7 linked regions of the Homo sapiens genome follow. The protein of the gene in region 4 interacts with the protein of the main gene of each other region in a biochemical or structural test. Each region holds a gene or a part of one and is shown on either strand. Other genes may lie near its edges.

Region 1 (3,500 bases), on a different chromosome or scaffold from region 4:
TGTTGGCCAGGCTGGTCTTGAACTCCTAACCTCAAGTAATCAGCCTGCCTTGGACTCCCAAAGTGCTGGGATTACAGGCGTGGGCCACCACTTCCTGGGCAGATTTTCAGGGGGTTGATTGCATGTCTGGACTGGCCCCCTACTGCCTCCTGCCCTTGCTACTCAGGGCAGAAAGCAGCAAGAAGACAGAAATCCTGGTTTGGGGGAATGTGACATCTGTGCACGTTCATCTGGGGATCTTTGTGGCTCTTGTTTGACTCCAGACCCAGGAACCACTAGCCAGGGTGTGTCCAGGCTGCTGTGGTGAGCCTGAGGCTAGCTGGCTTCCTAAACTAGCCCTCTGCAGCCACCATGAACAGGAAAACCCTTTTTGTGTCACCAGCCAAAAGTTGCCCTCAAAGAGTAGTTTCTGCTGGGCACAGTGGCTCACACCTGTAATCACAGCACTTTGGGAGGCCGAGGCACGTGGGTCGCCTGAGGTCAGGAGTTCGAGACCAGCCTGGCCAACATAGAGAAACCCCCGTCTCTACTAAAAATACAAAAATTAGCTGGGTGTTGTGGCGGGCGCCTGTAATCTCAGCTACTAGAGAGGCTGAGGCAGGAGAATCTCTCAAACCCAGGAGGCAGAACTTGCAGTGAGCCGAGATAGTGCCATTGCACTCCAGCCTAGGCAACAAGAGCAAAACTCCATCTCAAAAAAATAATAATAATAAATAAATAAAAGAGTAGTTTCCTGGGATTCCTGACTAGTTGCCTACCCAGAAATTGGCTGCAGAGTTTCCTGTGGCTGGAGGAAAACTGGGGACACTTGGGCTGAGGAGGACTCAGAGCTGGAGGAGAGACAGGCTAGGGGGCTCTACTTGGCCTCACTGCCCAGGTGCTAAGAAGGAATGGTGATCCCGCTTCTCTTGTCTCCATCTGACTTGGGTGCCCCATTCCTCAGGCCATGGGCAGTAACCTCTGGAGTCTGATTATGTAATAACTCACACAATGTGGGACTTGGCCTTTATAAAGCCCTTTCATTTGTATTACCTCATTTTATCTTTTCACAATACTCTAGTGAAGTAGGCATTTCTTATCCCTGTGTTTTACATGAGGAAACCAATGTTTAGAAAGGTAACGTGACTTGCCCAAAATTACCTGGCTAGAAATAGCAGCAGAACCAGTCTGGAACTCATGCACTCAGTCTCCTCCATCCAGACGTGTCCCCTCCACCTCCTGGGGTAAAGGTGGAGAAATCCAGTTTGGAAGATGTCTCTGGACCCTAGAGGGTTCTTGCATCTGTTGTAATACAAGTTCTGAAATGGGTCACAGACGTGGGTGGGAAGAATGTGTCCTAGTCTGGTGGGTGGCTGGCTCTGGACAAGACACAAAATTTTGCCCCTACCCTGGGATGCTTGGAATGTACTCATCCCCCCTCCTTCTCTGGGGAAGCCAGGAGTTGTCTGCAAAGGGAGGGGGAGGTAGGTAATATTAGGATGTTTACATTATTATCCTTTTGACTCAGGGTGGGGGTGGAGGGATTATGTAACTGAATTGCGGGACTCTGAGGCCAAACTTTATTTCTATCTTCTGAGTAACTACCTGTGGAGTTTGAATGATGGACTGGAAGTGAAAAACAGACTCAACTTCAGCTTCCCTCCTCCCAGGAAAGCAAAGTCTCTGAAGTCATCCAGACTGCTGTTGAATCCTGGCTCTACGACTCACTAGCTTTGTAACCTTGGGCGAGGTGTTTAACAAAAGCTAAGCCTCAGTCCATCTTTAAAATGGGGCTAGTAACTTCTCCTTCACAGAGCTGGCTTTAAATGAAATAATTCTTGTAAAGCAGTTAGCACAAAGTACTTGGCTCATGGTAAGCCTTCAATGATTGCTAATTATTATTCTTTATTATTCAAGTTATGAGTAATAAATAATAATAACATAGTCAGAGAGAAGGGTCAGACTGCCCCCCAGGAGCCTATCAGATATGCTTCCTTGGAGTTACCTGCGCTATCCTGCATTGTTCAAAGTGGAAGGAATGATGAATTTGGAATCTGCCAAGACTTGTTCCTAGTCTTAGCCCTGCTGCTTCCTAGTTGTGCCACTTTTGGTGAATCACTTAATTTCTCTGACCCTTAATCTTAGCTTTTCCATCTGTAATATGGGGTTGTACCTGCCTACCAGAATGTTAGGAGGCTCAGTTGAGCTAGTAGATAAGGCTAGTGGCTTGTGAATGGTAAACTGCTGTGCACAAGTGATTTTCCAGGGGTGCTTGTGCAAGTGTCCTCTATGTCCTGGCAGGATAGGGGTCGCTTTTAGGCCTACATGGGCTGATGGGACAGATACATGGAGAGGCTGGGCAAGGAACTGTGGACTGTGCTATACGTATAGTGGGCCTGACCTACATTTATCCTGCTGTGAGGTGGTTTCTCGAAGTACCCAGGAGGAACTAGGGCAGGGAGAGGCTCAGGGCAGGAAAGCAAGAATGCAGTACCACCCAGCCTGGCCCCTCTGCCACTGCTGGTTGTGGACAAGTCTGTCTCTTGGAGCTTCCCTGGTGCTCTGTCCGCAGGAAGAAGGGATTCCTTGTTCTGAGGTACCAGAGAAAGCACCTCCTTCCCAGAGAAAGCACAGCTCAGAAAAGAGGGCCACCAGGTTCTTGGTGCTTCCTTCAGCAGCTGGTGGTCTAAAGTCCTCAGGCAGACAGTGCCACTGTGCCCCCTGGCTGGATGGTAGGCAGTTGTCAGGTGTGAGTGGGCAGCACACTGAGCTCAGAGTCAGACAATCTACATCTACATCTTCATTTCTGTCTTACTGTGTGACCTTGGGAAAACCACTCCACCTTTCTGTAAAACAGGGCTCCTACTTATATCAAAGGATCTCTGGGATGCTCAGATAAAGGAAAGGATGTGAATGTGCTTCTTCAACTGTAAGCACGTCTGAGTCTTTCTAAGAGCTTCAAGGAAATGCTTTGTGTTAGAAAAGGCAGTTGCCAGCCCGGTGTGGTGGCTCATGCCTGTAATCCTTGCACATTGGGAGGCAGAGGCGGGTGGATCACCTGAGGTCAGGAGTTTGAGACCAGCCTAGTTAACATGGTGAAACTCCGTCTCTTCTAAAAAATTACAAAAATTAGCTGGGCGTGGTGGCGGGCACCTGTAATCCCAGCTACTTGGGAGGCTGGGGCAGGAGAATCACTTGAATCCGGAGGTAGGGGTTGCAGTGAGCCAAGATTGCGCCACTGCACTCCAGCCTGGGAGACAGAGCAAGACTCTGTCTCAAAAAAAAAAAAAAAAAAAGAAAAAGAAAAAGAAAAGGCAGTTGCCATGTGATTTATTTCTTGAGTGAGAAGAGCCAAGGGATTGTTTCTGACAGTCTTCCATGCTCTGGCAGGGCAGCTGGGCAGAAAGATGTTTCTTGATTTGTTTGGTTTGTCCTGTGATGAAAGAGGCCTGGTAGCTCAGCGTGCAGAGGCCAAAGGCCAGAGTTGAGCTCCCAAGTTGGGCCCTGCACCCAGGGGGAGC
Region 2 (3,500 bases), on a different chromosome or scaffold from region 4:
TAGTGGAGAGTGCTCTGTACTGTCTTCCTGGTCACGTGGCCCTTGCCAGAGGAAAGGAAAGGATGGTTTGTTTGTATAGTACAATGGAACTTATTTCAATGTATTCTGTATTTGATTTTACATTCCTGTTCTCATATTTTTACCTTAATTACATAACAAATATTAAAAGATTGACTTCACCAGGCCCAGTTACAATCGCCAGTTTGATAATTCTTATACGTACTCAAATGAATTCAGAGACCAGATGGGAAAAGATTTTGATAAAACCTCTGGTACATCACAACTGAAGTCTTTTCTTGTCCAAACTATTGTGAAACAGATGTTCTTTCTGTTTCATTTGCTAAATCTGGAAACGTGACTGCTTTTGAGACTTTGTCCTCTCTGACAGGTAATAAATATAATCCTGATATTTTTCAAGTTGTTTGACAGAAGTGTAATCTCCCCAGAAGTCCTGCTGGACAGGCTTCACTTTTCCTTTGGAGGAACACAGAGATACAGGGAATATGTTTTAATGACATATACCTAACGCTGAACATGAAACCAGTTATTTTACTTTTATTATTATTATTTTTAGAAACAGCCTTGCTGTGTCACCCAAGCTCAAGTGCAGTGGTGCGATCATAGCTCACTGCAGCCTCCAATTCCTATGCTCAAGTAATCCTCTTGCCTCAGCCTCCTGAGTAGCTGGGACTACAGGTGTGTGCCACCATGCCAGGCTACTTGTTTTTACTTTGTTATAGAGATGGGGTCTCTCTGTGTTGCCCAGACTGGTCTTGAACACATGATCTCAACCATTCCTCCCACCTTGGCCTCCCAAAGTGCTGGGATTACAGGCGCGAGCCACTGTGTCTGGCCTATTTCACTTTAGAAGTAAATTGAATGCCACATGCGAAGTTTGTTAAATTTTTTTAAAAAAGGAAAGAAAACACAAAAGTAAACTACCTAGTCGCATCAGAAATGCCATAGTCATTTTTGCCATTTTTTCATTCATTAGAATTCAGTGCATTATGTTATTTTGTTATCTCTGCAGTAACTTTCTATCATGTTATTTATTTTCTTTGTCTTATTTAAAGCTTCTGAGATTATGGATTTTTGTTTCCTTCCCTGAAGTTAAGTGTTATCATTCCTATATAGTACTAAGCTGTCTACAGAATAGTGGGAGTCTGCCCTCTTGAGTTGGGAAGATCCTAGTTTGAATCTTGGCTGTGCGACTTTAAAGTTCATTAACTTCTCTTAGCCTCAGTCACCTGAACTCTGCAGTGGGGATCCTTATGCCTCAGAGTGTCATTGGGAGGACTCACGAAAATACGCTTGTACTTTGAGTTCAGTACCTAGCCTGTATGAGCCAGCATTAAGAGGGACAGTCATCACGCAGCGCTTTGCACACAGCTCTCACGCCACATCCTTTGGCTACTGTTTTGGTAAATCTTTACTAGTAAATGTTTCTTAAAAGCATTTACATTCATGGACATGATTCAGAAACTAACAGTTGTTTTTTAGGTCTCACTTTGAGATTTAAAAACCCTTAGGGCAGAGACCAGATTTTATTTCTTACCTCAGAGTTTCCCTGTAGGACAGGAACCAGCAACAGCCTAATGAGCTGATTAAGAATTTTAGAGATTTAAAATTTAAATTAGGATTGCCAGTTTTAGAGACTGGCACATAAATGTTTTCATTTAAGGCAGTGACTGTTTCCTTTAGGATATGATTTTTTATCTTTCTAAGATGAGATCACCATCCTCAGAATAATTTGTACCCCGCTGGGCACTAGCTAATGGAGGTGATGTCATGCTAAGCAGCACTTCAGTGAGTTTTGCGGGAACCAAAGCTCTGCTCCCAGGAGTGTGGATTTGGTGCTTTCATGTGGAAAAAGCGGATGATGACAAGTAGAGAGCAAATGTGCGCATGTCTGATGCTGTAAGGATTTCCTTTACCATCATATAAATTTTTAAAGTATATCAAAATAAACTGATAACTGAGAAAATATATGTTGTTCAGATACTAATAATGAAGTTAATGAAGTCCACTATAGTATTTGTCCCTGAGAAATCTTTATCAAATATTTTAAATCCTATTGTAAAATAATGTATTTTTTCTTTCAGTTTTAGAGACTGGCAATCCTAATTTAACATCTCCTTTTGAATTCCCCACCACAGGCACACTTTCACACATTCACTCTTTAATAACAGGTTGTTTCAAATTGTTAATACTTTATAGCTTAATATAGAAATTTCACTTTAGAAATTAATTTTTATTTCTCTGCCTTAATGCTATAGATGTTGTAGTCTGCTTTACTTCAGTATTGTAATGAGTAGTTGGCTAACCACCATGTAAATAGGGAGAACATTCTAGTTTTTTACTTGTGTAGGAAAACACAGCTTGAAATGTCTAAGTATCTATTTTAGAGTGAAGTAAATTTATACTGACAATATTTTTTTGTGTTTGAAGACCTGACTGTTACAGCGTTGGTGGCAAGTGTTAAGGGATCCAGGAACTAGACAAGTGATTCTGAGACCTGAGTTCCAGGTTTCTAAGTAATATCAGTTGGTCTACTGAGAACTTTGCCATAAACATATGTGTTCAGAAATTTCCTTTCTTAGCAGCAGCATCCTGAATTGAACAGAATTACACACACATCAGCCCAGTAAGAAACAATTCATGTTAAGTCCATTGCTATGCCAGGATAAATCTTTTAAATCACAATTATTTTTCCTATTTATATTTTGTCAAATAAGAATGTTCTAAAAACCAAAATTTCTGTTTTCTTTTTTTTTTTTTTTTTTTTTTGAGACGGAGTCTCACTCTGTCGCCCAGGCTGGAGTGCAGTGGCGCGATCTCGGCTCACGGCAAGCTCCACCTCCCGGGTTCACGCCATTCTCCTGCCTCAGCCTCCTGAGTAGCTGGGACTACAGGCACCCACCACCACGCCTGGCTAATTTTTTATATTTTTAGTAGAGACGGGGTTTCACCGTGTTAGCCAGGATGGTCTTGATCTCCCGAACTTGTGATCCGCCCGCCTCGGCCTCCCAAAGTGCTGGGATTACAGGCAAAATTTCTGTTTTCATTTAAGGCAGTGACTATTTCCCTTAGGATGTGATTTTTTTATCCTTCTAAGATGAGATCACCATCCTCAGAATAATTTGTACCCTGCTGGGCACTAGCTAATGGAGGTGATGTCATGCTAAGCAGCACTTCAGTGAGTTTTGCGGGAACCAAAGCTCTGCTCCCAGGAGTGTGGATTTGGTGCTTTCATGTGGAAAAAGCGGATGATGACAAGTAGAGAGCAAATGTGCGCATGTCTGATGCTGTAAGGATTTCATCTACCATCATATAAATTTTTAGAAGTATATCAAAATAAACTGATAACTGAGGCAATGTATGTTGTTCAGATACTAATAATGAAGTTAATGAAGTCCACTATAGTATTTGTATAGTATTTGTATATTACAGTACTCTGAAAAGCTGGTCACTATTTAAAGTTTCCATTACCAGTCACAAGG
Region 3 (3,341 bases), on a different chromosome or scaffold from region 4:
ACATCCAGACACTGATGGTTTTACACATGATGGATTTAATCCTGACTATAACCCACTTTACAGATGAAAGTGAGCACAGAGAGATTAAGTAACTCACACACAGTCATTCGTAAGTCATGAGATGGATTTGAACCCAGGCGGGTTAGCTCTAGAGTGCTTGCGTTTAACTGCTAAGCTATGTCCCTTCTGCACTGACAGCTGTGTAAGAGACATTTCTAAGCAGAAGTTGAGAGCGGTGGAGGACCTTTGCACACTTGAGTTCCCGCATGGTCCTGTGAGTCGAGTGTAGGGCCCAGCTCTCCCTACGAGGGATGGGGCTGGGCCTCGTGTACCTGCCCCTCTGTAACCGAGCTTGGTTTCTGATCTCCTCATAACTTCATGACTTTATGCAAGACAGAGTGGTTCCTGATATGTGTAACCCTGAACCCTTCCCTCTCCTTGCCACTAACCCCATGTCCACACAGTTACTCTCTCAGGTGGGCTGGCCTGAGATTGGGACACCTCCTCTCCTTCAGGATCTCATATTACAGCCAGCCCTGTCCAGCACAGAGAGGCCGAGGTTCAGAGCCGGGCAGTGGATTACGTGGGGCCACTCGACCGTGTGGCTTTAGGAACCCCAGGTTCCTGATCCCAGTCTAGGGTCCTGACCTCAGAATGGCCACTGACCTTGAAACCCTTCTAACCTGTCCTGGCCCCCATCTCTCTGCCTTCCCTAATCGCTGCCCGTCTCCCTACACAGGACGTGCACCATGGCAACGGCACCCAGCAAACCTTCTACCAAGACCCCAGTGTGCTCTACATCTCCCTGCATCGCCATGACGACGGCAACTTCTTCCCGGGGAGTGGGGCTGTGGATGAGGTAACCGCATGTCAGGGCCACATCTTCCAGCCTCATTGACCTCCTCCTGACACTTACTCTGCCTCTGTCATGACGAGCTGTGTGATCCTGGGCAGACTGCTGAGCCTCTCTGATCCTAAACTTCCCCACCTGGAAATGGGGAGGCTGGATGAGCTGGGCTGGCAGCTCTAACAAACTGGTGTTCCCCTTCTGGGACTCTGCTGTCCTCATGTCTCTCTTGCCTCCTGTTTTCCAGGTAGGGGCTGGCAGCGGTGAGGGCTTCAATGTCAATGTGGCCTGGGCTGGAGGTCTGGACCCCCCCATGGGGGATCCTGAGTACCTGGCTGCTTTCAGGTACGTGCTCTGGGGGCCCAGAGGGGCAAGTCCACCCTCTCCTGTCCCTTCTCCCAAGAGCACCAGGGGGGAGGTGATCAGTTGGATTGTCAGCCTGTCCCCACCAGTTCCTAGACATTGTAGGTGAACGCCAGTGAGAATAGGACAAACAGAGAGAAGAATGCAAAAGTCAAAGGGTGCTTTGCAAAGGCATACATTACCGAGAGCCAATGTCAAACTGATTGCTGGCAGGTGGGTGGTGGAGTGAGCAGAGCTGGCACATTTAGTCAGAGAAGGCTGCCACTCTATTTGGGAAAAGAGAATTCTGGAAATGGATCTTCAAACACTTTTCTGGAGTTATCTCCATGACAGCTAATTCTACGAGAGCCCTGGGCTGGAGTTCCTGGAGTCTTCTCAGAGCCCAGGGCTATGAAGAACACCCAAGCAGGCCCCAGAGTTGGATCAGGGGTAGAGGAAGGCAGCTGGGGGGGGGCCTGGAAGAGGGAGAGGATGAGAGAATGTAGCCAGGTGGCGCAGAACCTCAGAGGACCTAGTTGTCCCCTACTCAGCTCTCAAGTAGTGAGTAGCTGGGTGTGGTCAACTCAGTCCAAAGGACTGAGCACTTGTAGTCCCTGAAGCTTTGTGACCAGAGTCCATCTCCGCAAGGCTGTGAGATTACCCTTTCCCTGTGGCTCCGGCCACTGCACCCCACAGATGCTTGCATGCACACACACACATGCACACACACATGGTCACACACACTCCTCTTTCATTCCCTCTGGTGCTCCATCCTTGGCTCCTTTCTGCCTCTTGCTAGTTAAGTCCCCTAGGGGGCTGAGTCCTTAGGCTGTGTGTGCCAGGGACATGGGTGGCCAGCCAAGGTCAAGGAGGTCAGAGAAATCTGCCAGTTGTGCTGGGGCACTGGGAGCCTTGGAGTCCTAAGAACAGGGTGCCCCACCGCAAAGTTGGCAGGACCGCCCCTGGCAACCCTGCACAGTACGATGATCGCCACTTCTTGTGACCTCACAGGATAGTCGTGATGCCCATCGCCCGAGAGTTCTCTCCAGACCTAGTCCTGGTGTCTGCTGGATTTGATGCTGCTGAGGGTCACCCGGCCCCACTGGGTGGCTACCATGTTTCTGCCAAATGTAAGGGAGCCTCAGCTGAGGGGGACGTTAGGGACAGAGAGCCAGGCGGTGCGGGGAGTTGGGAGGCACTCCCAAGTCAGAAAGGGAAGGTGGCAGTGGCCAGCCCAGGGCTTTCAGCCTGAGGACTGGAGTATGGCAGCTGGTCCTGAAATTCCCCGGGATCTCCTAGCCGAGCACAGCCCAAGCCCTTTCTCAGGACCAGGCCGGTTCACCACGGAGGGCTTGACCAGGTCATACCCATGGGGACTTAAGTCCAGTAGGCAGGAAGCTCAGCCGTGGGACTCCCCACCACAGCTGGGTTGATTCCAGGTGGGCTGGCAGCTCCTCCAGAGGAAGGGGAGAGAGAAGCAGCACTCTCAGAATAGAGGGTGGCCACAGGGCCCAGAGTACAGAAAGAAGAGAGGGTGTAGCTCAGTGAAAAAGACACAGGCTAGAGTCAATGACCCAAGTTCAGGTCCTACCTTGCTGCCACTTACTAGCTGTGGGGCCTTTCCCAAGGCCCTTAACCTCCCTGAGCCTTGAGTGAAGCATACTAGTAGGTTTTGTACGACATTCAATGTGAAAGCACTTTGGAAATAGTGATTGATACATGTGAGTCATTCTTTATTAGGGAGGAAGCAAGCAGGGAAGCCACAGGGGTAGAGAACAGGGTCACCTCTCCACTCCCGCCCCTCCCATTTCTCCCCTCCCAACCTCTAGGTTTTGGATACATGACGCAGCAACTGATGAACCTGGCAGGAGGCGCAGTGGTGCTGGCCTTGGAGGGTGGCCATGACCTCACAGCCATCTGTGACGCCTCTGAGGCCTGTGTGGCTGCTCTTCTGGGTAACAGGGTGAGCCGTCTCCCTCCCCCATCCATGCTTCTGTCAGGCAGGTAAGCCCGGCTCTCAGGACTACCCAAGGAGCAGGCAGATGGGATGGGACAGGGTGGGAGTGGCCAAGCCTGAAACAAGGTAGGCGAAGCGGAAGCCTCTGTTCCAAGTTAGGTCCAGGCAGCATCTCCTGGCCTAGGTAGAGTGTGC
Region 4 (3,500 bases):
GTATTGGAAAAAGAAATGTGGGCCACTGTTTTCCCTGAGGTCAAAAGACAAAACAAGTGAAGGGTCTTCCACAGTTTCCCAAGTTGGGGGCAGTGAAGTCCTGGAGCTTGCTTGTGAAAGCTAATTTTTCACATTTCTTCACAACTTCAAGTTCAGTGACACCACCTTAGTTGCTTAAAATTGGCCACTGTAGGAGTATTCACATCATAGCAATCAGCAGATGCTACAAACCAGGGCTTTTTGGAAAGCCAGTCATGAAACATTTACCACCAGCACACTGCTGGTTGTGGGGAAGGTTGATTTACAGAAGGGTGAGAGGTGGTGGAAGCTGGAAAACAAAGACGCCCCCTCTGATCAGGGGAGACAGCTGTCCTGTCCAGAGGAAGGGGGAGAGGTGGCTTCAGGCAGGTCCTGCTGGCTTAGAGGAGAGTACGTTGCCCTTGGAGGGGAAGGGTGGACAGAAGGAGCAGTAAGCAGAGCTATGTGTTGTCAGAGCTCGTTTTTCGTGTCCCAGTTTGAGCCCACAAGGAGAGGGTTGGGTGTCCGTTGATGACAACTATAGTGGCCCAGAGGATTTCCCAGAGCCCTGGGGTTTCCTTAGCCCCTTGTCAGGGATGTGACCTGGCAGGTGGATCATTAACTGTATTGGCAGTGACTATTGTAAATAGCTGGTCGATAGTTAGATCACTTTGGCTGTTCATTACTTCATTATTTGCTGGGGCCTGTGCGCGGGGGAGTATTGATAGCGAGATGGCTGGCCAGTTAATTACTGTATTGAAACAAGGTTCCCTTACATCCTCTGCTCAGCTCTAGGGGACTCTATGGAAGGAAAGTTGGGGTATAGAACGCTAGGGTGTGGCTGTGCACTCCCAGGTTCTTTATCCCTCCCATCCCACCCCACCCCCAATTCCAGCCTCAGGAGGGAGGCAGGGTCCAGGGCAAGGTCTTAGCGGTTTTAGCAGGATAGGCCGGGTGGGGGAGCTCATGCCTATAATCCCAGGACTTTGGGAGGCCGAGGCAGGCAGATCACTTGAAGTCAGGAGTTCAAGTCCAGCCCGGCCAACATGGTGAAACCCTGTCTGTACTAAAAATACAAAAATTAGCCGGGCATGGTGGCGGCACCTGTGATCCCAGCTACTTGGGAGGCTGAGGCAGGACAATCACTTGAACCCGGGAGGCAGAGGTTGCAGTGAGCTGAGATTGCACCACTGCATTCCAGCCTGGGTAACAGAGTGAGACTCCATCTCAAAAAAAAAAAAAAAAAAAAAAAAAAGGCCGGGCGCGGTGGCTCACGCCTGTAATCCCAGCACTTTGGGAGGCCGAGGCGGGTGGATCTTGAGGTCAGGAGATCGAGACCATCCTGGCTAACAAGGTGAAACCCCGTCTCTACTAAAAATACAAAAAATTAGCCGGGCGCGGTGGCAGGCGCCTGTAGTCCCAGCTACTCGGGAGGCTGAGGCAGGAGAATGGCGTGAACCCGGGAAGCGGAGCTTGCAGTGAGCCGAGATTGCGCCACTGCAGTCCGCAGTCTGGCCTGGGCGACACAGCGAGACTCCGTCTCAAAAAAAAAAAAAAAAAAGAGAGCTTTAGCAGGATAGGTGTCCCCAGGTGCAGCATATTTGAAGGACTGGGTTCCCTCAATTTCCCCCCACCCCTGCTCCCCACCATCTGTAGCCCTGAAAGGTCTCGATCCACCTGCTCTCTGGACGGAACTGTGGCTTGAAGAGCCATTCCTGAGGACTTTGGGGCCTTTCTCTTTCTAGACACCCATTTTCTTAATTAGAAAGGGAAAAGACTGTGGCCTTGGGAGAGTTAAGAATAGTAAGACAAGGAGCTGGGCAATCCAGTAGTCAACTAGCTACATGTAGCTATTTAAATTAGTTACAATGAAATAAAATTAGAAAACTGTAGAGCTGCAGTCGCACCAGCCTCATTCATAGCCATGTGTGACTGGTGGCTGCCGTCTTGGGTGGTGCCTTCATTGTCCCAGAAAGTTCTGTTGGAGCAAGCCCAGCTGGAGGAACCCAGCTTCCCTGGCACGCCTGAGGGTGACATGGTGCCCTCACCGCCTTCTGTCTGTCCTCACTTTCTCCTGCCCTGTCCCTCCGCCCTCAGGTGAGAAGCCCTTTGAGTGTAAGCTCTGCCACCAGCGCTCCCGGGACTACTCGGCCATGATCAAGCACCTGAGAACGCACAACGGCGCCTCGCCCTACCAGTGCACCATCTGCACAGAGTACTGCCCCAGCCTCTCCTCCATGCAGAAGCACATGAAGGGCCACAAGCCCGAGGAGATCCCGCCCGACTGGAGGATAGAGAAGACGTACCTCTACCTGTGCTATGTGTGAAGGGAGGCCCGCGGCGGTGGAGCCGAGCGGGGAGCCAGGAAAGAAGAGTTGGAGTGAGATGAAGGAAGGACTATGACAAATAAAAAAGGAAAAGAAAAAAAAAAACAGAAGGAAAAGGAAACCTGGTAGCTTTTTGGCCTTGGATTCTCTCTGGGCTCCAGATGACCTGGATGCCAAGCCACTGCCCCTCCTCTGGGGGCCTCCACCCTCCTCTCCCGGCTGGAGGTTTGCCTGATTTTCTGGGATGGGGTTGGGTATTTTGTTCACTCAAATGGTGGCACATTTTTCTCCTTCCTTCACCCAGACCTTCTTTTATGTGTCCAGAAATGGAGGCTAGAAAGCAGGTGAGAGGTCCTCTGGTCAGAGCCACACGGTCTGTGCCGGCCTTCCTCCACCAAGACCCCCAGGAGATGAAGGGAGGGAGGAGGTGAGCCAGAAGGGCGCTCCCCTGCTGATGGGTCTGGGCTGGGTCACTAGCTGCTCAAAATGGCAGCTCTAGTTTGCTGGCGGCTGACTGGGGAGGAGAAGGGCTCTGTTTCTCTTCCCACCACTCAGCCCACCTGCTGCTTTCCTCTGCTTTGCCACATCTGGGTGTCCCCCGGTGGTCTCTGAGAGCCTCAGGACCCCTGCCCCTCCTCCAGCTCTTTGTTCCCAGCCTCCCCTTGACTCCTGTCCTCCAAGTCCCAGGGGAGTCCCAGCCCCTCAGGGACCTGGCGGTGTCTCCATCCTTCTCCGGTTCCCTAGTGGGATAGCTGCCTCTGACTTCAGGGTCCCTCCTACCCTCAGCCTTCTGAGAACACAAAACAAATCCAATACCCCACCCTAGTCCAGCACCATCGTGAGCAAGATTCCTGCTGCGCTGCTTCCAAAATGGAAAAGCATCACAACTAAATACCTAATATCCTACCAAACAAACCACAGTCCCTACGTAGCCCTACTTCAGTCCCAGGAGAAGGAATCCATGAATGGGCTGAGGTTCCGAGGGTAGGTTGTGGATGTCTTTCTCTAGAGGGGTCCCACACCTGGAAAAGAGGACACCCAGCCCGTGGGATGAGGGAAGCTGGGCAAGGGAGAAAGTTGTTGAGTCACACTGGGGACCCCAGATGTAGTGAGCTCAGCAAGAAAAGCCAGGTCCAGAGAGAGTCGCACAGAATT
Region 5 (3,500 bases), on a different chromosome or scaffold from region 4:
ACCAGACCAAACCAGACCAAACCAAAACCAAACCAGACCAGACCAGGCCAGACCAAAACTAGACCAGACCAGACCAGACCAAAACTAGACCAGACCAGACCTGAACAAAACAGACCAGGCCAGACCAGCAAACCCTGCCCGGGTGTGAGAAACACACAGAAAAGACACGGAAAAATATGTTCCAAAGCAAACCCAGGAATGAGCTGAAGGTGGCCTGAGTGCAGGCTGTTCCTTTCCCCTAAATGCTTGGCTGTAAATACACTGCTACTCCTTTTACCTTTGCACTGAAGAAGGAAGGAATGGAAACAGCAGGGATCGTGGGGCAGACAGGGCTGTGTGAATCACCCGCCTGCACAGCCCAGGCCCTGGTCAGGGGACCACACTCCTTGGGGGTTCCATGTGCAGCTTTGTTGAATGGATACAATAACACCTGGACACGCATAGGTTTCAGACAGTACCTGGCACACAGCAAGTGCCCACTGAATGCCAACTGCTACTGCTAAAAAACAGCAATGCTAATTTTTAAGAAAAAGGGAGGCAGAGTCCAGACATGGCCTCGAGGCAGGTTACAAACAGTGTGGAGGGGCCCGCAGTGAGCACCTGGCCCAGGGAGATGCAGCTGGGGTGTGGTGCAGCCACAGCTGGGACAGCAGGGCAGCATGTGGCTCTCACTACAGCTCCAGCCAGACAGCCCCATTTTCATTGCTTTGTTTTTAACAGGTTCTAGAGGAGTTGTTTATGGAAGGGGGGGATTTTTTTAAAGCATTAATCAATGCTTTCCATAAACCATCTGGTCCAATCTCCTGGTGTCACAAGCAAGGTTGCTGTCCCCGAAGCCATGGCCCATGAGGGGTGCCCAGCCTGGGGGGGGGGGGAGGGGACAGACTGCCAGCCCCCTGGCGTCCCCTGCGTCACTTCCCCAACACCATGTGCTGGGCCCTGGGTGTCCTCTCTCCAGGCTGCCCCGTGCGTGTTTCCCTCACCTGGGGAGTGGCCACTGCTGTGGATGGTGATGGGCAGGGACCCATTTCGGGCACACGGAGGGAAAGTGGAGGGGGCTGAAGCGAAGGTGTCAGAACGCAGCTATGGGTTTCACTAAGTCCTCATGGCCAGACACAGAAATCCTCCCAGTCACCAACAAGGCAGACGCAACGGAAACAGGCGCAAACACCGTGGATAGCTTTCCATGAGAAAAGATGTCCCAACGGCCATGAAAGGACAGGGCCCCAGCCACATTTGCCATCAGGGAAATGCAACGTGAGCCCACCGAGATTTGAACTCCCAGCTGATGGAGAGACGCCCCTGAGCCCCAGGGAGGACACAGAGTGCGGCCTCGCACAGCACTGGTACGAGTGACCCAGGAAACGGAAAGTTGCCATCAGCGGGACACACCTCTCTGTGCCTTACCCCAAGGGCAGCAGCAGAAATGTACATAGACGGCCACCGCAGACACACCCACGGGGCACCGCCCATGCCTGTCCTCAGGAGACAGGTGGACGGAATCGGGGGTCGTTCCTCGGAATCCTTGGCCGGTTCATCTCAACACAGGAATCTCACAGAATGACGCTCCCAGGATGCGGCTGGGCGCTGTGTGCTGCTGTTAACACACAGCTCGAGGCCAGGGATCTACCTCTCTGTAGAAATCAGGGTTGTGATGCCGGTGCGGTGGCTCACGCCTGTAATCCCAGCACTTTAGGAGGCCAAGGGAGGCGGATCACCTGAGGTCAGGAGTTCGAGACCAGCCTGCCCAACATGGTGAAACCCCCTCTCTACTAAAAATACAAAAATTAGCCAGGCGTGGTGGTGCGCACCTGTAATCTCAGCTACTCAGGAGGCTGAGGCAGGAGAATTGCTTGAAACCAGGAGGCAGAGGTTGCTGTGAGCAGAGATTGTGCCATTGTACTCCAGCCTGGGAGACAAGAGCAAAACTCTGTCTCAAAAAAAAAAAAAGAAGAAGAAGAAAAAGAAATCAGGGTTGTGGGTGTCCATGGGTGGCAGGTGGCTGGGTGGGGACACAGGGGCAGGGGTTCTGTTGATGAAAAGCCCATCCATCTGCCCCCTTCAAATTTGGGGACTTTTCTGCTTGGGTATTTTAGCTCCATTAAGCAGTCTTTAAAACCTGGAAGGAAACGTCCTGTCTGAAATGCTTCTCGTGGCTGTGTCTGGGTGGGAGAGTAATGGCATTATTTTTTTTCCAGCTTTTTTTCCACTTTATGATGAACAGCCTTACTTGGTGACCAGGAAATGGAGGTCACCATGAACAATGATTCTGGCAGAAACCAGGCAGGACCCATGTCCTGGAACCACACCCAGCTCGTCTGGGACGTCTGCTGTTTATATTTACGTGACCAGTTTCCTTGTGTTGACATTCAGTGGGGCCTGGGTTTTTGCTACTACTAAAACCAACGCAGATGAAATCACTATTCCCACCCTCCCTCAGGATAAGTGGGTTAAGGTTTTTTCCATGTTGTCAATTTAACCTCAAGAAAGGTTTGTCAACAGGGACACGGAACAAAAACTTGTACACAAATGTTCAGAGCAGCATTGCTCACAATCTCTATAAGGCAGCCACAGCCCAGATGTCCACCAAGAGATAGAAACAAAACGTAGCTACCCACGCAATGGAGTATTACAGAGCCATAAAAAGGAATGAAGCACGAGGGAAATACAGAGGCAGAAAGCAGTTGACTGGATGTCAGGGGCTCGGGGCAGGGGAATGGGCAGTGGCTGCTGATGGGGATGGGGTCTCCTTTTGGAAAGATGAAATGTTCTGGAACTAGACAGAGGTGGTGGTTGCACAATATTGTGAATGTACCAAATGTTACCAAACTGTACACTTCAAAATGGTTAATTTTACGTTATGCGAATTTTGTCTCAATTAAGAAAAAACAGGATAGGTTTGCTGTGCTGACCACGGGCCCCCTCCCGAGCGGGGAGTGAAATGATGGTAGAGCCATTTCCGCCGTCCTCAGGGCCGGCCCCACCCCGGCCCGGCTCACCTGCCGCGCAATGTTCTGCACCAGCTTGTCCATGGTGAAGCCCACGTAGGCATGGATGGTGAACATCTCGCGTAGGGTGTCCTCGTACTGCGTGGGGTCGATGCTGCCCTCCAGCAGGCTCCGCACCATGTCCAGGAAGGCCGGGTAGTACTCCTCCAGCTCCACTTCACCTGCGGAGACACACCGCCTCATCCATATGCCTCCTGGAGAGCGCAAAGTCACGCAGGCCAAACTCTGGCATGACAGAGCCCCAACAAATGCCCCCATGGGGCCCAACAGCCCTCACCTGCCACCCCTGGGGCAAATGTGGGAATCACCAGGAAACCCGAGTAGCTGGTGTTCACTGCCACCCTCCGAGGCTGCCTAATCTGGCCGGCAACCCAGGGATGGCAGCGAGAATGCTGTGGAGGCCAGGCATGGTGGCCCATGCCTGTAATCCCAGCACTTGGGGAGGCTGAGGCAGGCGGATCACCTGAGTTCAGGAGTTTGAGACCAGGTTGG
Region 6 (3,500 bases), on a different chromosome or scaffold from region 4:
TTGAATCATTTACTTCTTCCAGGACACTGGGATTGTTAAGGATGATTTTTTTTTTAAAAAATGAAAGGTCTCACATATTTATTACTGAACCTAGCCAACCAACACGTTCATAACAGATTCAGAGAAAAAAATATATTCCCAATAAAACATGTCCAACTCTCTAGATAGTGGTGACATTTTCAGCTCGATATGGTAACATGATTGTGACCTTCAGACAGCATAAGTATGTTGTATCATGCAATGCCTTATAGACCCAGCTTGGTTCTTCTCCAATGGCTCCTTTTGGAGTTTTACCTGATTTTATTACCAGTTTTCATCCGAATCCACTGGGGAATGGGTCAATTTTGCTTTTGTTTCTTGGCCAGGAATCACTTAACCCTGAAAGTCTTGTGAGAAGACATGGCGAGAAGTGGAGTCAAGCACACACCATGATGGCAGATAAAGGAAGAGAGGCCGATAATCTTTTTTTTTTGAGACGGAGTCTCGCTCTGTCACCCAGTCTGGAGTGCAGTGGTGCCATCTCGACTCGCTGCAACCTCCGCCTCCCAGGTTCAAGTGAGTCTCCCTCCTCAGCCTCCCAAGTAGCTGGGATTACAGGCACCTGCAATCATGCTCAACTAATTTTTGATCTTTGTAGAGATGGGATTTCACCATGTTGGCTAGGCTGGTCCTGAACTCTTGACCTCAGGTGATCCGCCTGCCTTGGCCTTGCAAAATGCAGGGATTACAGGCATGAGCCACGGTGCCTGGCCCAGTTAATTTTTTATTAAGACATCTTTAGCATTCCATTTTGGAATTCCCTGAAGTTGTGATTTAAAAAAGTATATATATATAATGCTGATATTCTACTTAATTAATTTAATTAATTAATTTTTTTTGAGACAGTTTCGCTCTTGTTGCCTAGGTTGGAATGCGATGGCGCCATCTTGGCTCACCACAACCTCTGCCGCCTGGGTTCAAGCGATTCTCCTGCCACAGCCTCCCGAGTAGCTGGGATTACAGGCATGTGCCACCATGCCCAGCTAATTTTTTTTTTTTTTTTGAGACAGAGTCCTAGCTGGAGCGCAATGGCGTGATCTCTGCTCACTGCAACCTCTGCCTCCTGGGTTCAAGCATTTCTCCTGCCTCAGCCTCCTGAGTAGCTGGGATTACAGGCACGCACCACCACGCCTGGCTAAGTTTTTTTATTTTTAGTAGAGACGGGGTTTCACTGCGTTAGCCAGGATGGTCTTGATCTCCTGACTTAGTGATCCGCCTGCCTCGGCCTCCCAAAGTGCTGGGATTACAGGCGTGAGCCACTGCGCCCGGCTAATTTCATTTTTTTTTTTTTTTTTTTTTTTAAGTAAAGATGGGGCTTCTCCATGTTGGTCAGGCCGGTCTCGAACTCCCGACCTCAGGTGATCTGACTGCCTTGGCCTCCCAAAGTGCTGGGATTACAGGCATGAGCCACTGCGCCATCCCGGCTGATATTCTGTTTCTTTTTAAAAGAGTCATGGGGAAAAGTTCACACAGATACTGTTATTGAGCACCTTAGTTTTACAGTTTAAAATCTGGATAATTCCTGCAACGTGACTATGTTTACTTAAAGATACGTTGTATCGGTTATATTTTTTGGCTATTTTTGCATTCAGTTGCCTTTTCTGAGCTAATGAGGATCTGAAGGAAAAGACCTGAAGGAAGGAAGGAAGGGTGGAGTTTTGTTTGCTGGGCTGGTTGTTCTCAATATCTAGGGCCAGTTATTTTTAAAGGTTTTACCAAAGAGTAATATACATACAAAAAAGTGCACAAGAGTGTTTGGTTTGCCGAACTTTCACAAACTGAACACATCCATGCAACCAGCACTCAGATGAAGAACTGCTGTATTGACTTAACAAGTAGAATAGTTTTGTCTGTTTTTATACAGCATAACATTTTATAAGTGAAATCATACAGTATGTATCTCTGTGTGTTGGTTCTTTTGCCCGGCACTGTTTAGAGGTTTGTTCATTATTATTGTATATAGTTGTATGTTATTACATCTCATTGCTGTGTGGCTTTCCATTGTGTGGAATGCAGTACACTCAATTTACTTATTCATTCTGCTTTTGATGCCCATTGAGGAATTTTCTAGCACCTGTTTTTAATATGAGCCAAACTTATACCTTTTATAGCACCTTCTATTTCAGGATTACTTTTGGGCTGAATAACAGAAAGTTTGATTTATTGTAGGTTAAACAATTTTTTTTTTCTCATAAAACAAGAAATGTAGACAAAAGTAGCTCAAGGCTGATGTGGTAGCTCCACAGTTCCTTCATATTATTTTCTTCTCCATCCTTAACAGCAGTCTTTCACTCTGGTGCTTGTCTACTTGTGGGCACAAAAAAGCTACTTTGTGTTCCAGACAGGAGAAAAGGGAAAAAGTATGTTCACTTTATATCTCTTTGGCCAAAATGGGTATAAAAGAAGCTGGGAAATACGTTTTTTATCTGGGTAAATTTAGGTTTCCCTTTGTAAGGAAGAAAGGGAAAATAGATACCAGATAGGTAATTAACAATGTCTGTCATACTTCCAAGTCTGTTTGCTAGTACTTTTGGATGCAATCAAACTGGTTTGTTCTAGGCTTAGCATAGGTCTAGACTCAAAGGGTAAGGTTTACACAACCAGTAAAATTTTTAGTTATAGTTTTGAGTTCCTGAGAAGCTATCTGTGCATGACTAGTGTTTAACTACCATTCAGGGTTGAATGTAAATATTCAGAGGCCCATTGTGTTGACAGCTTTGACCTAAACCTTGAAGTTATACAGTTAAATCTGGTCAGTTCTGTTCTAAATCTCTAGTACCGTCTTACTAAGTTTGAACATATGCATCATGAAGATGAAAATATACATATATTTTTGTGTTTTTAGAATCGTGGGCCCAGTGCAGTGGCTTACTCCTGTAATCCCAGCACTTGGGAGGCCGAGGCAGGCGGATTGCCTGAGCACCAGAGTTCGAGACCAGCCTGGGCAACATGGTGAAACCCTGTCTCTATGAAAAAATACAAAATTTAGCTGGGTGTGGTGGTGTGCGCCTGTAGTCCCAGCCACTGAGGAGGCGGAGTTTGCAGTGAGCCGAGATCGTGCCACTGCACTCCAGCCTGGGTGACACAGCGAGACTCAAAATAAATAAATAAATAAAATGGAATTGTGGTAAATTATTTAAGTATAAGGGAAGTGACTTCACTGTAATTCTCGGTTTTTCCCTTTTAATGGTGCATTAGAATTATCCTGTTTAACCCTTTTTGAGCTTTCTTCATTAGGAAATAAAATAAATTGATATATATAGAATTTGAAGCTTGGAGTGACTTTTTTTTTTTTTTTCCGAGACAGTCTTGCTCTGTTGCCCAGGCTGGAATGCATTGGCGTGATCTCGGCTCACTGCAAGCTCCACCTCCTGGGTTCACGCCATTCTCCTGCCTTAGCCTCCCAAGTAGCTGGGACTACAGGCGCCCACCACCACGCCCAGCTAATTTTTTGTATTTTT
Region 7 (4,009 bases), on a different chromosome or scaffold from region 4:
AAAAATGAGAGCAGGAGATGTAGGCTTCTGTAAAGAGAGAAGCCTGGAGGCAAGAATAGGCCATGCCTGCCAGGCTGGGCATGTGCTGCCCCCAAGCTGAGTCAGAGGCTAGGAGGGAGAAGCTGGGGTGCTACAGTGCCAGAGGCTACTGTGCCCCCACCCCTGTCCCACCTGGGATTCCTGACACCTCCCAGCCCTAGGGGAAGGCCCTCCCCACAAAGGAGGAAGGAAACCAGCTAAGCGACTCTCTGGAGCCCTGCAGGGGAGCCCTGCACCACAGGCAGGGAAACCCAGGAGTCCTGGCGCCCAGCCCAGAGACAGTGAAATATCTTGGAGGGGAGGAAACAGCCCAGATTGAGGCAGACATGTGGCACCCCCAGAAGCTCCCAGATGTGACCTACTGGCCAAAGGGGCTAGATGAGGCAAAGTGAAACATTTCTGAACAAGAAGAGAGAAGAAAGTGGGGCTATGGGAATGGGGTGGCGGGGGTCAGCCTGGCTCATCGCTGTCCTTTCCTCCTTGTCAGAGTCAGTGACACTGACATTAAGGTCATCGAATATCAACCAGGTCCTGAGGACCTTGGTGTGTTTCCTCCTCTCCTAGTCTCCAGACCCCAGCCTGTTCATTCCTGAGCTTCCTCTGGCACCCCTTCCTTGGGGCCAAGCCAAGTAAGAAATCAGCAGGCCCAAGGTGGTGCTTGGGAGGCCGGGGCAGTGCCAGGGGCAGTCCTCATACCATCCTCCCACTGGCTTCCCTCCTGCCTGCTCTTAGCCGCCACACATATCTCAGCTGTCGAATCCGATTAGGGCTCCTGCCCAGTGAGCCAGACAAGGAGGCCACTGGGCAGGGGAGAGAGAGACAAGGACGCCAAGCAGGGATGGCAGAAGGAAGGTGGAGACATGGCTCAGGGGAGCAAGTATGGGGCCCCAGAGGAAGAAATGCCTGGTGGAGAGATCTGTACTCTGTGACCACAGGTGCTCTGGTAACAGCTACAACCTGCATTAGGGGAATTCTGCAGTAACCGGGGCAATAGCCCTGCCTAGTTCCTCCATCCCCCAGATGGGCAAAGGATGGGGGAAGAAAACTAAAGGCGGAGAGATTGACCTAGATTTAGGAAGAGGATTCCATCCTAGATTCCCCCAGCCATTACTACCGTTTGCAGTGAGCTTTACGATACATTGTCTCTGTGGTTTTAGTGGCAATGTCCCTGCTTGCTACTGATAGCCATTTTTACAAATGGAGAAACTAAGGCTTAGCAAAGGGGAAGACCTATATAAACACATATAGTTAAGTAACCAGTCTAAGTCTCCAGTTCAGGCCTCTGATTCCTAGTTCACTGCTCACAGTCAGAATCTCTACTTTCCTTGTTGGATCAAGACCAGAACGAAGTCTGAAGCCAATTCATTATCCACCCTGTCCTCTAAAACCAACCTTTAGGGGACCCGGGGAGCCATGGAAGAATGCAGAGCACACCCCACACCTAGACAGAGCTACCAGATGGGGACATGCCACCCATTCCTATCATACATTGATTGCTAGAGGAGTTCCCTCAGTGTGACCAGTCTCTTCTATCACCCCCCTCCCCAGTCTACTACCCCCAGAAGCAAGACACACACTCACACATGGTAAGTCAGACAAGGTGTACACCCTTCCTGTAAACCCACCAAACCAGAATGACACGCCCTAGATCTTCAGAGAGCAGGGCCTGTCTGCCCACCACAGGAGAGAAAAATAAGCCACTGTAAACAGTAGGTGCCATCTAGCCCTCTCCCAGAGAGCCTGTAGCGGGGCAGAAGCTTGGGGACCTTGTAGCTCTAGAGAAACACCAGGAGCCTGAGATTCTGAAAGCCAAGAAGCTCAGGGAGCTGGCAAGGCTGGGTGACCTCCTCAATCTGGTCCACACCCCCTTCCCTAGCCATCTGGACTGAGCCTGTTCTGGCCTGGGCCACACTCTGGTATCCCTCCCCTTCAATGCATGCAGCCACCTCTATCCAAAGCTTCTAGATCTTACAACCACATTGTCCCTACACACACACACACACAGGTGGGGTCGGGGGGCTTCTGCAGCAGGTGTTGAAATGTTGACATGGATGGGGGCTCTAAGCTGAAAGAACTTTCCTAGAGGAAAAGCTCACCAAAATGCTCACAACCTCCACTACCCTCTAGCAAAGCCTTTAGCCACCCAAGTGTGAGATGAACCTGGAAGGGGACATTAGTTCCCCTACAAGGTGTGTAGGGAGTAGGGGCAAAGTCCTGAGCTCTTTGGGTGAGGAAGCAAGAAAGAAATCCCTTGGGAAAGCTCAGGTCCCTCTCTGGCTCTCTCCTCTCTCTGTTACCTCAGCACTTGCCAATTCTCCAGTCTAGGTGAGGTGGGGGAAGGGGTATTAGGCAATACCGCAAAGGAGGGTGCAAGGGCGTGGGGCCTGGGCAGACCTTCCCCCTACTCCCCACTCTTATCTAGAGAACGGGAACTGCCTCAGGAGAAATGCAGGAAGGGTGCTGGAGGGTGCAGAGGGCTCTGAGCTTTCAGACACCCCACTGTTCCCAGGCTCCCACCTCCCAGGACTACAGTGAGCGACGGGAGAGGAGGGATGGGGAAAGCCAGAACTGGCGAGAAGGAAATGGCTAGATCAGAAGCAGAGGCCGGGGTCAAAGGCGGCCAAAGAATTGGGAAGGGGTGTGCATGGTCCTACCTGCTCAGGTGTGTGCTGGCAGGGGGCCGATGGGGTTCCCAGGAGAACCGGGGAAGCCCTCTCAGCTCGATTCAGGATTCCCCCCTGCTTCTGGGTTAGGCTGCTGCAAGAGGCACGGGTTCCCGTTGGGTCCTAAAGCCCACTCGCCAACTAGAAGGCTCTCCCCGCCCTCTTCCACCAGCCAGCCCCGACTGGGTCAGCGGGCGCAGAGCGAAGGACTGATGGGGGAGAAGTAACCCACTGGAAGAAAGATGGGCGTCTGGTCATCGGCTGGGGACAGGAACAGTTCCCTGTCTCAAATACACAGCATATGGATAACTCGAGGATAGGATGACCTGAAACAGGAGAAAATAGACATTTCTTCCTGCCTGCCCTGAGCAGATGGATTTAGGTTTTGGTGCTGGAGGTGGGGTTAAGATCTCTTTCCCTGCCACTCCTGCTAAGGCATTCAGCTAGAGATTTTGGAAAGGGAGCATTCATTTTGGTTGGGCGCTCACTTCTGTCCTCTTCCTCATGGACTGCAGGAGTCCCTTCATCCCTCCCAATTATTCCCAAGGACCTAGGAGGCCATAGAGGGTGAAAAAAGATTTTCAGCATGTAAAAAGTGCAGGCTCACTTAGATGGCAGCTGGAAACAGGGGAAACATGTAGGACCAATGTATGTGTATCTGGGAATGTGTGGGGTCTGCAAATACACATATATAGGCAAGAGTATAAACAGGTGGGGTTAGGGAAGGAGAAAAAAACAAAAAAGAACTTTGGGTTACACCTATTACTGGAAATGGTAATTGTCAGTGGAAGAACAGGACGTAGAACCTAGAGGTCAACTAGTGCCCCTACCCAGCCCTCAGTAATGTCCCGAATCTTTATGACCAGAATAAACAAGTTAAAGAGAGAATATTTTCCTAGATACCATTTAGGATAAATATAGGGGCAGAGGGACCTCAATACAACAGATCAACTTCAAGGTCACTGATTCAGTTTAGTATAGCCAGTCTTCTCAGTAGCTCAAAAGGGAGAATTCAGGTTTGGTGGGCTAGATGGGCAAGAGAAAGCTGGATAAGAATTCTGAAGTTGTGGATTGAGAACATTTTGCAAGGAGAGTTGCACATATCTCTAGCAGCAGAGCAGGGAAAACGTCATGAGGGGAAGGGCCAGAGGAAGTCAGCGACAGACTTGAGGGGAGAGGGCATGGCCTCTCCCTAGAAGGGGAGAAGACACCAGCAATGCCTCCACCTCTGTCTTGCAGGAAGAACTGAGTAAAGGAGCTGGACTAAGGATGGAAGGCCCCAGGGTGGAGTCCATGGGGTGAGTTTA

What was found.
Region 1: the proteins of ZBTB16 (region 4) and HBEGF form a complex in vitro, tested with the Homo sapiens proteins (2 studies listed by BioGRID).
Region 2: of the proteins of ZBTB16 (region 4) and CASP3, one has a biochemical effect on the other in vitro, tested with the Homo sapiens proteins (one study listed by BioGRID).
Region 3: the proteins of ZBTB16 (region 4) and HDAC7 form a complex in vitro, tested with the Homo sapiens proteins (one study listed by BioGRID).
Region 5: the proteins of ZBTB16 (region 4) and SIN3B form a complex in vitro, tested with the Homo sapiens proteins (one study listed by BioGRID).
Region 6: the proteins of ZBTB16 (region 4) and SUMO1 form a complex in vitro, tested with the Homo sapiens proteins (one study listed by BioGRID).
Region 7: the proteins of ZBTB16 (region 4) and RARA form a complex in vitro, tested with the Homo sapiens proteins (one study listed by BioGRID).

The regions. Positions count from the first base shown.
Region 1 is NC_000005.10:140,336,604-140,340,103, reverse strand, and holds part of HBEGF (proheparin-binding EGF-like growth factor precursor), read left to right. Parts: intron 1-3,500. UniProt on the Homo sapiens protein: Growth factor that mediates its effects via EGFR, ERBB2 and ERBB4. Required for normal cardiac valve formation and normal heart function. Promotes smooth muscle cell proliferation. May be involved in macrophage-mediated cellular proliferation.
Region 2 is NC_000004.12:184,642,948-184,646,447, reverse strand, and holds part of CASP3 (caspase-3 isoform a preproprotein), read left to right. Parts: intron 1-1,725; exon of another isoform or gene 1,726-1,905; coding exon of another isoform or gene 1,906-1,917; intron 1,918-3,500. UniProt on the Homo sapiens protein: Thiol protease that acts as a major effector caspase involved in the execution phase of apoptosis. Following cleavage and activation by initiator caspases (CASP8, CASP9 and/or CASP10), mediates execution of apoptosis by catalyzing cleavage of many proteins.
Region 3 is NC_000012.12:47,785,563-47,788,903, reverse strand, and holds part of HDAC7 (histone deacetylase 7), read left to right. Parts: intron 1-739; coding exon 740-859; intron 860-1,094; coding exon 1,095-1,192; intron 1,193-2,200; coding exon 2,201-2,319; intron 2,320-3,018; coding exon 3,019-3,152; intron 3,153-3,341. UniProt on the Homo sapiens protein: Responsible for the deacetylation of lysine residues on the N-terminal part of the core histones (H2A, H2B, H3 and H4).
Region 4 is NC_000011.10:114,248,211-114,251,710, forward strand, and holds part of ZBTB16 (zinc finger and BTB domain-containing protein 16), read left to right. Parts: intron 1-2,115; coding exon 2,116-2,345; 3' UTR 2,346-3,500. UniProt on the Homo sapiens protein: Acts as a transcriptional repressor. Transcriptional repression may be mediated through recruitment of histone deacetylases to target promoters. May play a role in myeloid maturation and in the development and/or maintenance of other differentiated tissues.
Region 5 is NC_000019.10:16,870,898-16,874,397, reverse strand, and holds part of SIN3B (paired amphipathic helix protein Sin3b), read right to left. Parts: intron 3,170-3,500; coding exon 3,000-3,169; intron 1-2,999.
Region 6 is NC_000002.12:202,228,598-202,232,097, reverse strand, and holds part of SUMO1 (small ubiquitin-related modifier 1 isoform a precursor), read left to right. Parts: intron 1-53; exon of another isoform or gene 54-450; intron 451-3,500. UniProt on the Homo sapiens protein: Ubiquitin-like protein that can be covalently attached to proteins as a monomer or a lysine-linked polymer.
Region 7 is NC_000017.11:40,307,971-40,311,979, reverse strand, and holds the start of RARA (retinoic acid receptor alpha), read right to left. Parts: upstream 2,801-4,009; 5' UTR 2,694-2,800; intron 1-2,693. UniProt on the Homo sapiens protein: Receptor for retinoic acid. Retinoic acid receptors bind as heterodimers to their target response elements in response to their ligands, all-trans or 9-cis retinoic acid, and regulate gene expression in various biological processes.